Linked DNA regions of Homo sapiens. The protein of the gene in region 4 purifies or fractionates together with the protein of the main gene of each other region. This does not show direct contact. Each region holds a gene or a part of one and is shown on either strand. Other genes may lie near its edges.

The links. The genes of interacting proteins can lie anywhere in the genome.
Region 1: the proteins of INSC (region 4) and GPSM1 purify together in Homo sapiens (affinity purification with mass spectrometry; one large-scale study listed by BioGRID and IntAct). This does not show direct contact.
Region 2: the proteins of INSC (region 4) and ENPP1 purify together in Homo sapiens (affinity purification with mass spectrometry; one large-scale study listed by BioGRID and IntAct). This does not show direct contact.
Region 3: the proteins of INSC (region 4) and DNAJC1 purify together in Homo sapiens (affinity purification with mass spectrometry; one large-scale study listed by BioGRID and IntAct). This does not show direct contact.

Annotation. Positions count from the first base shown.
Region 1 is NC_000009.12:136,348,039-136,351,538, forward strand, and holds part of GPSM1 (G-protein-signaling modulator 1), read left to right. Parts: intron 1-658; coding exon 659-729; intron 730-1,548; coding exon 1,549-1,725; intron 1,726-3,500. UniProt on the Homo sapiens protein: Guanine nucleotide dissociation inhibitor (GDI) which functions as a receptor-independent activator of heterotrimeric G-protein signaling.
Region 2 is NC_000006.12:131,806,877-131,810,819, reverse strand, and holds the start of ENPP1 (ectonucleotide pyrophosphatase/phosphodiesterase family member 1), read right to left. Parts: upstream 2,801-3,943; 5' UTR 2,785-2,800; coding exon 2,545-2,784; intron 1-2,544. UniProt on the Homo sapiens protein: Nucleotide pyrophosphatase that generates diphosphate (PPi) and functions in bone mineralization and soft tissue calcification by regulating pyrophosphate levels.
Region 3 is NC_000010.11:21,920,231-21,923,730, forward strand, and holds part of DNAJC1 (dnaJ homolog subfamily C member 1 precursor), read right to left. Parts: intron 734-3,500; coding exon 568-733; intron 1-567. UniProt on the Homo sapiens protein: May modulate protein synthesis.
Region 4 is NC_000011.10:15,240,423-15,243,922, forward strand, and holds part of INSC (protein inscuteable homolog), read left to right. Parts: intron 1-24; coding exon 25-101; intron 102-1,144; coding exon of another isoform or gene 1,145-1,261; exon of another isoform or gene 1,262-3,318; intron 3,319-3,500. UniProt on the Homo sapiens protein: May function as an adapter linking the Par3 complex to the GPSM1/GPSM2 complex. Involved in spindle orientation during mitosis. May regulate cell proliferation and differentiation in the developing nervous system.

The sequences.
Region 1 (3,500 bases), on a different chromosome or scaffold from region 4:
GTTGGGTCAGGCAGCTGTGCCCCACCACCCCACTGCGGCTAGAGGGGATGGGGGTCCCTTGGGTGGAGACACGGCCAGTAGGGTGAGCCCCGGGCCAGGAGGGATGGACAGGAGCCCGGGGAAGGTCCCACGGCAGAGCTGGTCTGGGGGATTCATCTGAGGCCTTTGCGTCCCCGACCCTGGCCTGGGCTGCCCGCAGTGAGCTGGGAGTGGACCCACAGGCCCGCCCCACCTGCCTCCGGGGCACAGCATGATGCACCCTCAGGAGGGGGGATTGGGTGGCCTCACAGAGGTGACCAGGGGCCACAGGAAGGGTGATCCAGGCAGAGGGAACAGCAGGACTGACGGGGGAGGCCCTGTGTGCGGCAGGGGAGAGGCCTGTCCAGAGCCGGGCCCTTCCAGCACAGGGAGCCAAAGCCAGACCCCACCTGGCCCCAGCCAGGACGCGCTCTGTCTCGACACCTGTCCCCTTTGACTCTGACAGTACAGTCGGGGAGACGCAGAGGACACTCAGACATGGCGCTCGCCTCCACAAGGGGGGCTGGCTGTCAGAAAGCCATGGCCGGGCTGGTCCTTGGCCCCCCAGAGACTCTGGCCTGGCCCACCCAATGCGAGGTGCCAGGGTGGTGCTGGGCTGACCGGGTCCCTCTGTCTTCAGGGGCCAGACCCAAGAGGACGCAGAGGCTGAGCGCGGAGACCTGGGACCTGCTGAGACTCCCCCTGGAGCGGGTGAGCCAGGGACACGGGACCGATGTCAGCACAGCCGCTGCCAGAGCATGGGCAGCGGGGTTAATGAGGCAGAGCCACCGCCACCCACCTCAGCCCCTGTCTGCTGGGAGATAAATGTGCCCTCCTCGGCCTGATGCCCTGCATGGCCCATCTGCCACCTGCTCACCCATGTCCCTCAGCGTCTGGCCAGCTGTGCCCCAGGCGAGGCATGGTCCTCACACATTTCAGGCCCCCATACTCCACCCAGCTGCTATGCCACCACACCCTCGGGAGCCCACAGACAGGGGCACCCACTCCTGCCTGCTCCCTGCCCTCTCGGACTCTGACCCAAAGTGGGCACAGCTGCTGCAGGTGCAGACACTGGCTGGGGTTCAGCAGACCCACACAGACAGATTCGGGGGCTGCCTGGCGTAGGGCCCTGGGCTGGCCCTGTGCCTGTCGGCAGTGGGTGCTGTGTGGCCTGGGCCAGCAGCCTGATCTCTCTGAGCCTCTGGTTCCTCTGGTGTGGCCTGTGTTCAGTTGTGGATGGCCGTCAGGGTTCTGCTGTGGGGACGAGACCCAAGGACGCCCACAGTCACTGTCATTGCTGGTATAAGCCGGCTGACATTTGCGGGGGCCACTGGCCCTCAAACACCCCACCCTGCCTCTCCCGGCCCCAGCCAAGGGCCCACAGCCCCAGTCCTCTCCTCCTCTCTGGGTACTGGGCACCTACGGCGTGCATCCATGAAATGGAGGCGGCCTGGCCTTCCCTTCAGGGTCCTGGGATGGGGACATTGGTTCACAATTGCCCAGGCCACGCACAGCCTTACCCCTCCCCAGGAGCAGAATGGAGACAGCCACCATTCAGGGGACTGGCGGGGGCCCAGCAGGGACTCGCTACCCCTCCCCGTGAGGAGCAGGAAGTACCAGGAAGGCCCGGACGCTGAGAGGAGGCCCCGGGAGGGCAGCCACTCCCCGCTGGACAGCGCCGACGTCCGGGTGCACGTGCCACGCACGGTAGGCGTCTTTGACGGCAGATCCAGGCCGAGAGGGAGGAGAGCTTGGCAACTGCGCCCCAACTCCACTGCCAGCCAACGGGGCCAGGTCAGGCCCGGGCACTCCGGGGAGGCAGGGGTCCCTCCCCGGTGCACCTGGTGCAGTGCTGTCCTGGGACCCCGGTGGGGGCTCTGGGCAGGGCTCAGTGTTTAGCATTGTGGTCGCACCTGGCCTCAGAGGCCCCGGCCACCGAGGAGCCTCCTGGGGACTCTAGGCTGGGCTCTTCTGCATGGAACGCCCCGCCTCTCTTTGGGCCTCAGTTTCCATCTTGTTCACCAGTTGGGGGCTGGCTCTTCCCAGCCTTCAGGTGGCCTCTCTCTCTGACTCCAGCCCCCACCCTCCTTTGTTGGGACCCTCCAGACCCATCCGCTAGTCACAGGAGCGTGTCCCTGAAAGGAACTGGCTGCCTTCACTGTGAGAGCCGGGCTGCACAGATCCCCTGATGGGGTGCCCCTTCCTGAGGTGGCTCTTGGAGGCTCTGGCCAGTGAGGTCAAGCCTGTGTATCCTACCAGGGCCCTGGAGGGGTGGACGAGGCCAACACAGTCCCTGGGGGAATCCTGGGATCTCTGACACCTGGCGGGGGTCCCTGAGCAGAGGGGCCTGAGGGGCACCCAAGGGGTGGGTGGGAAGCCCCTAAGCCACACCCATGGTCAGGCCCTGGTGTGGAAGCACCTGCAGCTCCAGCTGGGCCAAGGTACTGGGGCCTCTCCTTGTGGGTGCAGGGGCCGGGGCAGGACCGATGGTGAGTGGGGTCATGGAGGGGATGCAGCTGGGTGGCCTGTGCATGGCTGCAGAGCCCCTGGTGAGGGGACAGCAAGGGGCTAGGTCCACTCAGGGTTCCTCCTGGTCAGGGGCTGGGAGGCCCCACCCTGCCCTACCCCACCTGGGCTCAAGGTCACGAGTGGAGCAGAGGGTCACAGCCCAGCAAGCAGCAGCAGCGCAGCCTGGGCGCCACCCGGGTCCTCAGGGCTAGCCAGGAGCCCCCCGCGTTGCTGTGGCACACAGAGGTGGCGGGAGGGGTGGGGCAGTTGCAGTGACTGCCAAGTGTATGGGTGGACGGACGGGGGACAGACAGACTGGTGGTCAGACTCGGGGTTGGTGGGGGGACAGGTGACAGGCCGGGCCTGTGCCTGGCAGGTGTCAGCTGTGCCAGGGCCACCCCAGCCACGGGAGAGCTGGTTGGTGTTCAGGGGCACCGATGGGCCGAGTCCGGGTTCGGAGGTCAGCCTGGAGCTCCCCCGAGCAGGACGGCTGGGTCCAAACCACTAGAAATAGTCTGAAATTGTTCTTCCGTGGGCACCAACCTGCAGAGGGGTGTGGGTGCTGGGCTGGGATTCGCAGCCCCCCGAGGCTGCCCAAGCCCATCCTTCCCACCAGCAGGGCACAGCCTACCTTCCCCTCATTCAGCCCCAGCACTGCCCAACCATCTGGGCTAGGTCCATCCGTCCACTGATGGGAGAGGTGTGGAGGGAAGGGCACCCAGGGAGCACCTGGTCAGGCCTTCCCGGGGGTCCCGGTGATCCCCCAGCCTCCCTGGGCCTGGAGGGAGGAGCAGGACTGGGACCCAGACACCTGCCCTGTCCACAGCTGGCCCTGCCCTGTCCACAGCTGGGTCTGCCCTGTCCACAGCTGGCTCTGCCCATCACATCTGGGCCGCCAAGGAAGGAGTGGGAGGCTGGCAGCATGTGTGGGACAGACCAGTCAGCCGGCCTCAGGGGCTGATGGCTTTCTAGAA
Region 2 (3,943 bases), on a different chromosome or scaffold from region 4:
CTACATCATTTTAGTTTATCTGAGAAAACTGCAGAGTAATGTAAAAATTACATTGCCACTGCAACATGATTGCCTCTGAAAGGCAAGGCAACGCAACTCTTCTATTTATCCTGCTAAATTAAAACAGTGTAGCTGAGGATCATAGTGCTGGGCCTCTCCTAATCCCAACCCCAGGTTGCAATTAGTTCAATCTGTTTCTGCAGCTTTATGAAAAGTGTGCTGAGGTTTAATCTGAAAACAAAAGGAATTCTATAATTGCAGCTCCTTTCTAGAAGACATATCCCAGAGCTCTTTGACGACAATTGTCAGGATGCTTTTGGGGCCTTTTCCATTTGGAAGCCCATTATTTGGGGAAGTTTTTGGGGGGGGGGCGGGGTTGGGGGAAAAAGGTATTGAAGTAGGGAAGGGAAAGAAGAATACGAGTTTGCACTTTCAGTTCAGTAGCTAAATAGCAATTTCAACAATAAAGGGTCTCACCGTGTCACCCAAGCTGAAGTGCAGTGGCACAATCACAGTTCACTGCAGCCTTAACTTTCCCTGGCTCAGCTGAACCTCCCATGTCAGCCTCCCAAGTAGCTGGGACATAGACGCATGCTACCATACCCAGCTAATTTTTGTATCTTTTGTAGAGATGGGTTTCATCATGTTGCCCAGGCTGGTCTCAAACTCCTGGGCTCAAGCAATGGAACCGCCTCAACTTCCCAAAGTGCTGAGATAATAGGTATGAGTCACCGCACCAGGTCTATTTGGTAACATTTGTATGTTAATGTCTCACAGTGTTCCATCAAAAGATATGAAGTAAGAATTCTTTCCAATTCAATAGATGCAAAAGACCCCAATTAATGGATAAAAAAGGTCCATAATAGTCCTACTTGTGGAAGTAAGTCCTAGGACACTTCCATGTCAAATGCCCAGAGTAGCATCATCACACAGAATGCTGTTTGACCAGTTGACTGCAGGTCTCAAAGACTGGACAGCTTATTCCAAAACTAGACCTTTGCTGATATCTGTTGTGGATGTATAAGTAAATGAGCAAGAAAAATTTAAAACCTGAATTTTGCAATTGGAAAACCTGTAAAGGTTTATAGGCATGTAGAAATGGTTTTACACAAGAGTTACACACTGATTCCATATACAATTATCGACTACCTCATCGTGTGTGAAACACCTCAAGGTATTAATACTAAACAATTTAAGTGATCAGGTTGTAAAAGCTAAGGTCTTCCATTAACAAAATTTTTAAAAGGTGACTCAAGAGACTAAGTTCTCATCAATATTGTGTTATTATAGACTCAAAACAGTGTTACAAGATGCAAAATTTTATCTTGAGATGCAAACATCATGTGGCTTGGGGTACTTATTCTGTGAAACTAAGGCTTCTTTTTAAGTACTAAGCATACGGCACCATCTCTTAAGTCTAGGAAGATTGATTCCTCAAAGTATTATAGCATCTCCATGATGTCCCAAATATAGTGAAAATGGAAATGCATACAAAATGAAAGGAGACTTGAAAAATTAGAAATTTTTCTACAAAGCATTATTCAATCATATGTAAGGGGATATATTTTAGGGTACACTATACATAGAAATCTGTGATTTCCATATAATACAATAAAAATGATTCTATTTCCTTGCTGTTTTCAATTTACTTCCCTACCTACATTCTTCAGCTTGATTTTCACAATAATCCCATGCAATGCACAAGGGAGTTGATGTTGTCCCATTTTCACACATTAGAAATTGAGGTTTAGGGACAGTTACGCAAGGCCTCAGCAAATAATAACAGCCAGGAATCCAGGCCTTCTCTCAATCAGCACTTCCCACCATGAATTCAGAATAAAAACCAACCCCCACATTTCATGAAGTTGACTGTGGGTCCTGCAAATGTCATAGCAAAATAGCAGAGGAGTAATAGGTAGCTTTTGTTAGCAACACAAACCGTGTAGCCTCTGGTTAGAAGAGTGGGCAAAGAATCATAAAGGTTTCTTCAGTCACATAATGTGAACATCCATGGAATTTCTGAGCACCTGCAAGGAAATTCCAAAACGGAGCGAAAGGGAAAAAGTGTTCCGTAGAGTTCCTAATAAAACTTAAAGAGCTCCGCTAACTCTTCAACTGCAATCAGTTAACCCAAGTGAAGTCATGTATACTGCGCCCAGAGCCCCCTAAAAGAAGCAACACATTGATGCACCTTCTTAAGACCAACAACTTTCGCGTTTGACATTTTTCTCCTCTAAAAACCCGTACTCTCCTGGGGCAGGGGGTCGAGTATTTCTAAGGATGACCGTTTTGAACAGCCTGCTTTCACAGGCATCCATAATTCAAGTGAGAGTGAACCATCCTGCCCTGGCAAGGTACCTGGCAGGGGCGGCTGTGTAGGGCACTTGCAAAGGCTGCGGAGGAGAGCGCGCGGGCGAAGAAGCACTCCCGGACCATGCCTCTCTCCGGTGCCCGGTGCTGACTGCGCTGAGAGCGCAGGAGCTCGGCGCCGCCCTCCCCGTACTCCCAGCCCTCCCGGGCGCCGGGGCCTGGCCGCGGACCTACCAGCGAGAGTACTTTATAGGTGTTGGGGTCCTTGGCAGTGCGGGCGCGCGCCGCCTTCTCCAGCGGCTCCTCCCCCACGTCCATAGGGGCCAGCAAGGACGCGGCCGCCTGCGGGTCCCCGGGCGCCTCGGCAGCGTGGCTGCGGCCCCGATCGCGGCCGTTCCCCGCCGGGCCCTCCCGGGGAGCGCGCCCGCCCTCGCCGCCGCGGCTCCCGCCCCCCGCGCAGCCGTCGCGCTCCATCGTGGCCCCGGCCGCTCCGGCCCCGCTGCCCGGCCGCGCCTTTAATAGGCCCCGCGCCGCCCGCCCCGCCCCGCCCCTCCCCGCCGCGCCCGCCCCTCGCGGTCAGATCCTTGGCTCCCCGCCCTACACCCGGCTCTCGCAGTCAGGGCAAAGCGACTCAACGCCCCGGATTATTTGGCTTCCTGTCTGATTTCGGGCACTCTGTGTGTCGGTTATTTTGGGTCCCTTACGTGGGCGTGTCTTAAACTTCCCCCCAAGCCGTCCCCTCCCCGCGCCCCGGCCACCCTCCCGACACTTGCAGGAATCGCCCTGCGTGGCCTCGCGGCGCGGGCTGGGCTGGAATTGCAGCGTGTGGTCTGCAGAGGGCATGAGATCATGGGGCCCCAAAATAGAGCGGGGAGGAGGAGAAGGATGCAGCCGCCGATGCCGGTCCGGCTTCTCAAAGGCGGGAGAGAGTGGAGTCTTGGGGTCGACCTGTGAGTTTCTGGATGGAAATGCAAATGAACCATGGAGGAAGGCGACTTTCTGTTTCTCCCCCTCTGCGCCCCGTCCCCCACTACCTACGGTACTCTGAGAGAGAAATCGTCCACTTAAAATACGTGGGTTCACATGTACTGAACACACGTAAGGGATATTTCGATTCCCACGGTTTTATGTGGTTTCTGGAGTCTTCTCGCTATTGTTTGTATGTATATTTGCTTATTTTTCTAGACTTTCTGTATTGAAGGTTTCAGGAGTTGGCGTTGCCCTCTCCTGAGGTTGACACTGATACCTAGCTATATCAAAAGTGTTAATGCAATCTGAAATACTTTGATAAGCCTTATTTTTCAACTAGGACGCTAACAGTGAGCTGATTCTTGGTGGGTTTTGTTTTACCTTTGATTCTGGAACTTGTACATTTTCTGGCTCATCACTTAGCAAAATCACCAGTGTGTAGTGAAGTGAGACAGAGGGAAACCAGTGACTTCGAACTACTTTGCAATACCCAGGACTGACTTCAGGTACCAAGGAAAACAATTAATTTTCAATACATTTTGAATACATGAATATATACAAGTGTTTACAAATGAGAATGAATGTTTAACAAATATAAAATGCATGTTATCCCTTTAAAATAGTCAACTTGGGATGCTCTTCATTTATACTGACTCATCCATCC
Region 3 (3,500 bases), on a different chromosome or scaffold from region 4:
CTTCAAAAGGAATGAGTAAACAGATGCTAATTCATGAATACTGATAAATATGTTTGATTATCTTTAACATATAAATAAAAACCCAAAGAATAAACTATAGAGTAGCATATTAAACCAAGAAAAGTGTAATAATTTTTTTAACCAATTGAAGTTAGAATATTATATTCATTTCCAATTTTATTTATTTACCTAAAACATTTTAAAAGTAAACATTCATTATATAAAGGCCTGTGACACAAAAAAATCTAAAATCAGTCTTAAATAAAAAATATTTCTATTTGGAAGGTGATAATGAAAACATGGCTCTACCTTCTAATTCCCAGCTAGATATTTGGGCTTTCACAAAGTTTTATAACAAACTTAAGTGCCACATTTTTTAAAAGAAGAATATTTTCTTATTTCATGGGTTCTTCTTGACTTAGAAATATGTCAAACATTGAGTATAAAACTATTAGAATGAGAAGTATACAGAGAGAAACAGAAATTTTCATCAGTTGAAAAATAAATGTCCAAAATTCCATATAAAATTAAGGAGGCTAGTTCATTTGATTTATTACTAACACTTACCAGTTGTTTTTCCAGGTAGATTGACCAAACCACAGCATAATGACCCACTGTGAGAATAATGAACAAGAGTAATGCCAGCTCAGCATTGCTCATTTTTCTCACCCGCCTGTAGTAGAATACAGGCTGTCGCCAATCTGGAAGTCCATTGATCAGAATATCATCATACCTACAGTACAAATATAACAGTTTTTCACGGGGAGTTTAAAATAAAAACAAAAAAAACTATTTGTGCCTATATTACAAAAAGGAAAAAGAAAACAAATTATCCAAAATAGATAATGTTTATGTACGTTCCCAGCATTATAATATCGAGTAAATTCAAAGCACTGTAGATAGCTCTAGTCACTGACACCCTTCAAAAAAGTGTCCAGTAATATACTGTGGATACCAGATCTCATGTTTTTACAGCACCCAAAGATGTGACTCCTGGAGTGACATCTAAACTAAAGGAGCTACGTGTAGTCTACCTGTCTACTAGTCTATAGTAAAGACTCTACCATTGAAGTCAGCAACAAAAAGGAGGATCTCAATAGGAGAAAGATCAAGATAAGAGCTGTTTGTTACCGTGAATTACATATTAATTGAATCAAATTCAGAATAAATTTTCTAGTCAGTGCTTTTATGTCTACCCCTAAACTACGGTGGCTCAAGGCTGAAGTATTTATACACATGATTTTATCAAAGCTTTTTAATGAGGTAAAAGCCTATAAAATTGAGTGTCTTTTAATTTTGTATTGCTATATTCCTTTAGAAAATAAAAAACTCCCAAATTAAAAAGAGATGTGGTAACAACCAGTGTTTATGTTGGATTTCTCAATAAAACTGTTTATTTGTAAACAATTAAGTGGCAATTTCCTCATTTTTGGCTTTTGCTGGAAGAGAAGAACATTAACAAGTAAAAGCTTTCCTAGTCCTTTAAAAAGCTGATGCATTTTAAATCAGCTTTCTTGGTACTATCAGGATAAAAAAGTTACTTTAAAATAAATTTTCAACTCAATTTAAATTTACTTGTCAGACAATCATTGAACAAATATCTTTGAGGTTAAAAATAAGGAGTAACATTTATGACTGTAAAACTCAAAATGGTCACATACAAACACTGTGTGTTCAACACACACAACCTGTTAATTGAACACAACTCATTAAATATTCTAATCACACTATTTCCAGAATTAAATCTTCACTGAAAGGCCTAATTTGGTGCAACACATTGACCAAAATATTTTAATTAAAAATATTCTGAGTTAGTCGCAGGCCTAATTACAGGAATAGAAATAGGGCCTATATTGTCAGGCAGGTCAGTAGAACTCGGTAGTAGGTTTTTCTCAAGTAAATTGACCGATCTAGGAATAATAGCGCAGCTGCTAAACTGCCAGTCTTGACATGTAAATCAATTTAAATGCAACAACTGCAGTAGCTACTTTGATAGTTATTAAATTGATACCTTGGAGATATGCTAAAAAAATAAAGCAGAGGATTTATTACAGGCAACTTCTTTTTTCAGTAGAAAAACATCAGATATAAATGTAAAATATATTTTATTAGCAAATCTAGAAAACCTGACCTTCTGATCAACTTAGGTTATTAATAACAATATCATCAAATTGGAATAACCAATGTTGAAAGCAAAGGACATTAATTAGTACTAAACTCTTAAAAAGCAAATTGTGTAATATACAAGAGTCTACAAAGTAATGTATGGTTTGGCAGTAGCTACACCAGAAAAATTTGGTGCTATTCTTTTTCAATGTTTATCGAAATTCTTGAATATTAACATCAAGATATAATAATATGACTTCATAAAAACTATCATTCATGTTATCAAAAATTTATGTTTAAATCTATCTTATAAATACTGATTCATTTTAAATGAGAAAATGTATAGGTAAAAAGGTTTCAAGTGCTCTAACATAAGATTACAACATTCAAATGAAGTCCAATCAACCTTAAGTCCTGAATCTATTCTCAATCCACATTCTACTTCAGATTTGTTGAGGGAGAAAAAAGGTGAATATAGAAATCATCATTTTCAGCAAACCTCTCCCATGAAATAACTTCAGGTAAAAAGTATAGTTATTGATAAAGAACATCTAAGAAAATGGAGACAATTCCCTAATAGCACTCTTAAGTATTAAATTTGCTTTGGGTATAACTAAACTATAGCAGAAGAGAAAACAGCTGAACTCATAGCTAAGAATCTCTTATCAAATATTTTATCACCATCATAACTGAAAGTGCTATGTGTCTGTTAATAGCTACTATTTTCTACCCTACGTACAAATTGTATTTGGTGTACAAATTCAAGATAGCAAAATCTCATGCACTGAACACATTAAACAGAACTAGATATTTACTAGCCTATGTCTGTCACTCTAAACAACAGTCTCTAAGGATTAAGCTTAGAATCAATGCTCTATTGATTTTACTATCAATGAACTATATTATAGCTCACACGACTGGCCATTTTAAGGAAAGATAGCTTCCATTATAGTTCATTTTTTAGAATATATGCTGTTAAAAGATAAATCACTGCTTTCTTGATGAAACATTGAAAATACATTTCTTACCAAAGTACACACAGACACTTTTCATAAGTTATTTAAGAAGAAATACTGTGTTGACAACACATAAAATTTAAAACATCACTGTATTAGGCTTTTCTATATTTAAACATATAACACTGTTAAAATGCTCTGTATTTGGGATTCATACAAACTGTTCTCAACTATTTATTAAAGCCAGATTAAGAATGTATAAATGTATGTGTTGTAAGATATAAAGAAAGAAATCTCTATGATAAAAAATATCACTAATGCTAAAAATCATAGGAAATTATAATGGCATTTTCTTGGAAATGAAAACATTAATCAATTCCACATATCCAACATATGGCCTAATGTGTGTTTATTTCACTTGATTTTCTTAAAATATAC
Region 4 (3,500 bases):
AGGCTCTCCCTGTGTCTCCTACAGGCATGTCCCGTCTCATCGAGCTCTGCAGATCCCCATCAGAGAGGAACAGCAGTGACGCCGTGCTTGTGGCCTGCCTGGTGAGTTCTCAGTCTTCCCCCAGCTTTTCCCCTGGCCTTCGGAATGCAGCCAAGGGGGCCAGGAGAACCGGCTGTGCTGTGGCTGGCTTCAGTAAGCCATAAAACCTCTCTGGGCTTTAGCTTTTCTCTTTAGGATTGTGAACATTGTAATATTTGTTTCACTTAATTCATAAAATCATGATGAAAATTATATGAGGTCATATGTGTGAAAGATGAGGGCTGAGAAACTCCCTCTTCCCTCTGTTCTACCACTACAATTTTAGGAACCAGGAACCTTTGAGGTTCCTGTGGAACGCTAGCTGGTCGTGTCTATGTCATGGTGCCTGCAGAACATGGGAGCTAGGATAGGGATATCCCCTGCCTATTCCAAAGGGAATAAAGTGAGAAAAACCTCCACTTGTCCCTACAGGGAGCCCATCTGCTGGTGCTCTTCCAGCATTGTAGCTCTCTCCTCCTTTGTGGAATAGAAAGAGAAGGAACATGACAAGACAGAGTGGACTATTCAGCAGCCACCTGGATCTTCACCTTGAACACAAGCAAGTGTCTCCTAGGAAGTCCCCACCCAACTTCTTTTTGCTAGGGGTCCACCATGAAATAATCAATAGTACCAGAGAGAAAATGCATGCTTCGTCTATATATTCTTCCCTACTAGGTCTCTAAGGACTCCCAAAGTAGAGTAGCTTCCATTTAGGAACATTTAGGAGTAGGGAAGCCACTCTATAAACACAACCCTTAACTTCCAGAAGAAAGTGCTGGCTCTTGTGTTCAAAGAACATAAGGGGGAAGTGATGGATTTAAAGATCCTTCAAGCTGTCTCACAGTAAAGTCCTCTCCTCAGCCCATTTTGAGCTGAGCTTGTCTCTTTTCTGGGAGTTTCTGATGGGCGTTGTGCCGTTGTAGAAACAGTGGGGCATTGCAGTCAATCAGACCTGTCTTGGTTGTACCATTAATGAGCTGTGTGACATTTGATAAGTCACTCAGTGCTATACATTTTATTCAATAAATGTTTATGGAATGATTCTGCGTTCCATTCACTGTTCTAGGCTATGGGGATACAGCTGCAGGTAAAAAAGACAAACATCTCTGCCCTCCTGCTGTGGTTTTTATTTTGGCACATTCAAGGTAATCTTAATCTTTTTGTATCTTTGGTACTCTGGTGAAGCTTACGGAGCCCTTCTCAGAATAATCCTTTAAATGCAAAAAAGTAAAATATATAGAATTAAAACCAAAGTGAATTATATTAAAAATTATTAAACTATTTAAGTATGTGATATATTAATATATTTGCTTTTTAGTCAACACATCATTAAATAAGACCTAGCAGTAAGCCTAGTAAGTATTGTCATCTTGACTCATGTGGACCATAAATGGTATTTGAAAATATTTTCAACAACTTTCACGGGCTGTGAAAGTATTTGTAATTTCTACTGGGAAATCACAAATCACAGGGTTTGTGAAGATGCCATGGTTTGTTGCTGCATTCACATTGCAACTGAAGGAAATGCTAAGTTTCAGTTACAGGTTGGTGAAAATAAAGATGTAACTTTTTCTCATTCAAGTTCACAGATCCTCTTAATTCTGCCTGTTCTAGCAAGTGAAGTGAGAGGAAATTAACATGTAATGATTGGCCCCAACTACCACTGCCTGACACTGAATAGGCCCTGAGGAAATGTTGGTAGCATTGAAAGCACTTGGGAAACTATAAAACTCCATTCAGATATGAAGGCTTGTGATTATTACAGCTATCATTTTTATTAGTGTGAAGGAGAGCACACAGAAGAGCTTGGCTACTATCTTTAATCACTTGAAGGACTTTCAAGCCGAAAAAGGATTATATCTTGTGGATGAGTTGGTGGATGCTGAAGAGAACCCCTCCCTCCCTAATCCATTCTCCGTGTGGCTTCTGAGTTAATTTTCCTAATGACAGTTTATAATCATGACACTTTCATGAAACCCCCATGGAACCTTTCTGTGGTTCCTCATTATCTCTGGGCCACTGTCCATCTGTTCGGCCCTTCTCAGTCTGGCTCCAACCCATCCCTAGGGCTGCAGACCTACCACTCTCTCCAGGCCCTGTCCACCTGGGCTAAGCCAGAACACCCTGAACTGTGCCGTGATCCTTGCTCCCAGCAAATGTTTTCTCTGTAAATCTGTGTATTAAAATTCTGCCAATCCTTCCAAGCTTAGATCTAAATCTCTCTTCTTCACAAAATTTTCCAGGAGCTCTCTGTGGTGCAAAGCCAGAGAGTACACAGCATGAACCTGAGCCTCCTCTCTTGGGTTTTGTTTGACCAAGTCCAAGGCAGGTTCCATTATCTTTGTCCCAGGTGTTTTAAGGGGAGGCTCTTGGAATTCAGACATAGGCCTGCCTGATTCTAGAGGCCTGCACTTTTCAACCAGACCATCTTGTTCCAAGCCATGCTCTTTCTCTCCCACTCTCTTACAGCACTGGTCTCCAGCACTGACTCATGGAGGAGGATTTGTACTTTTCCCCCTCTAGCCTGGAACCTTCCCAGGGCAGAGGACTTTTTCCAGCATTTTGTATATCCATGGGACCTTGAGTTTGGTGACTATGTATTAATTGATTTGGGGACTGACAGACTTGCTTCCTCTTTTCCTAGCTCCCAGTCTTGGGGGTGTCCATGGTTTGTCCCTAGGAGTGTTCCAACATTTGAGTGTGGTCTCCTGGTTGGTGAGATTCACTTGGAGCCTAGCCTGGCAGATGGAGTTAGAAGCCACCATTCCTGCTCTTCCCCAAGGCGTTTCCCAGCTTCAAAGGCTCCCTTCAGGTAGAGGGAGGAAGTTTCACTTATTGTCTCCCCTGTCTGGGAAAGTGGCAGTGCAGATCATCTCTCCCAAAAAGAATGGATTTTTCCTGAATGAAGCAGCTGTCAGTAGGTTGCCAGGCTTGTTTAATGCTTGGGTGTTTTCAGGCTGTCTGGGAATGAGATTCTAGGATGACTAGCTGTTTAACCCTCCCAGAGAAGCAGAGGCTGAGAGAAGGGTTGGCAAGGGTGCAGGGTCCTTTGAGGCTGCTGCACACTGAGGAGGGGGTGCTCTGAGCTACTGTAGGGTTCATGTCCTGTAGACTTTCTGGGGGCCCTGGGGAGGTAAGGGTGTCTCTTCTCTCTCTGCCGCTCTCTGTTGTGTTTTGGTTTCTGCTTTGCTCTCTTTCTAGGGTTTGCCTTCTCTCTTAGCAGTTTCTCTTTCTTCTTTCCCTTCTTCCCCTCTTTTTATCACCATAACTCCTTTCTCTCCTTCTCTACTCCTTCCTTTTTCTCTCTGCCTCCTTACCTCACCCTACCTCTCTCCTATTATCTCCCCTCCCCCTAAGGGCTCTCTCTTTTATTTTCTTTGCCACTATTTCTTTTTTTTTTTTCCTCCATCTCTTTTTTATAC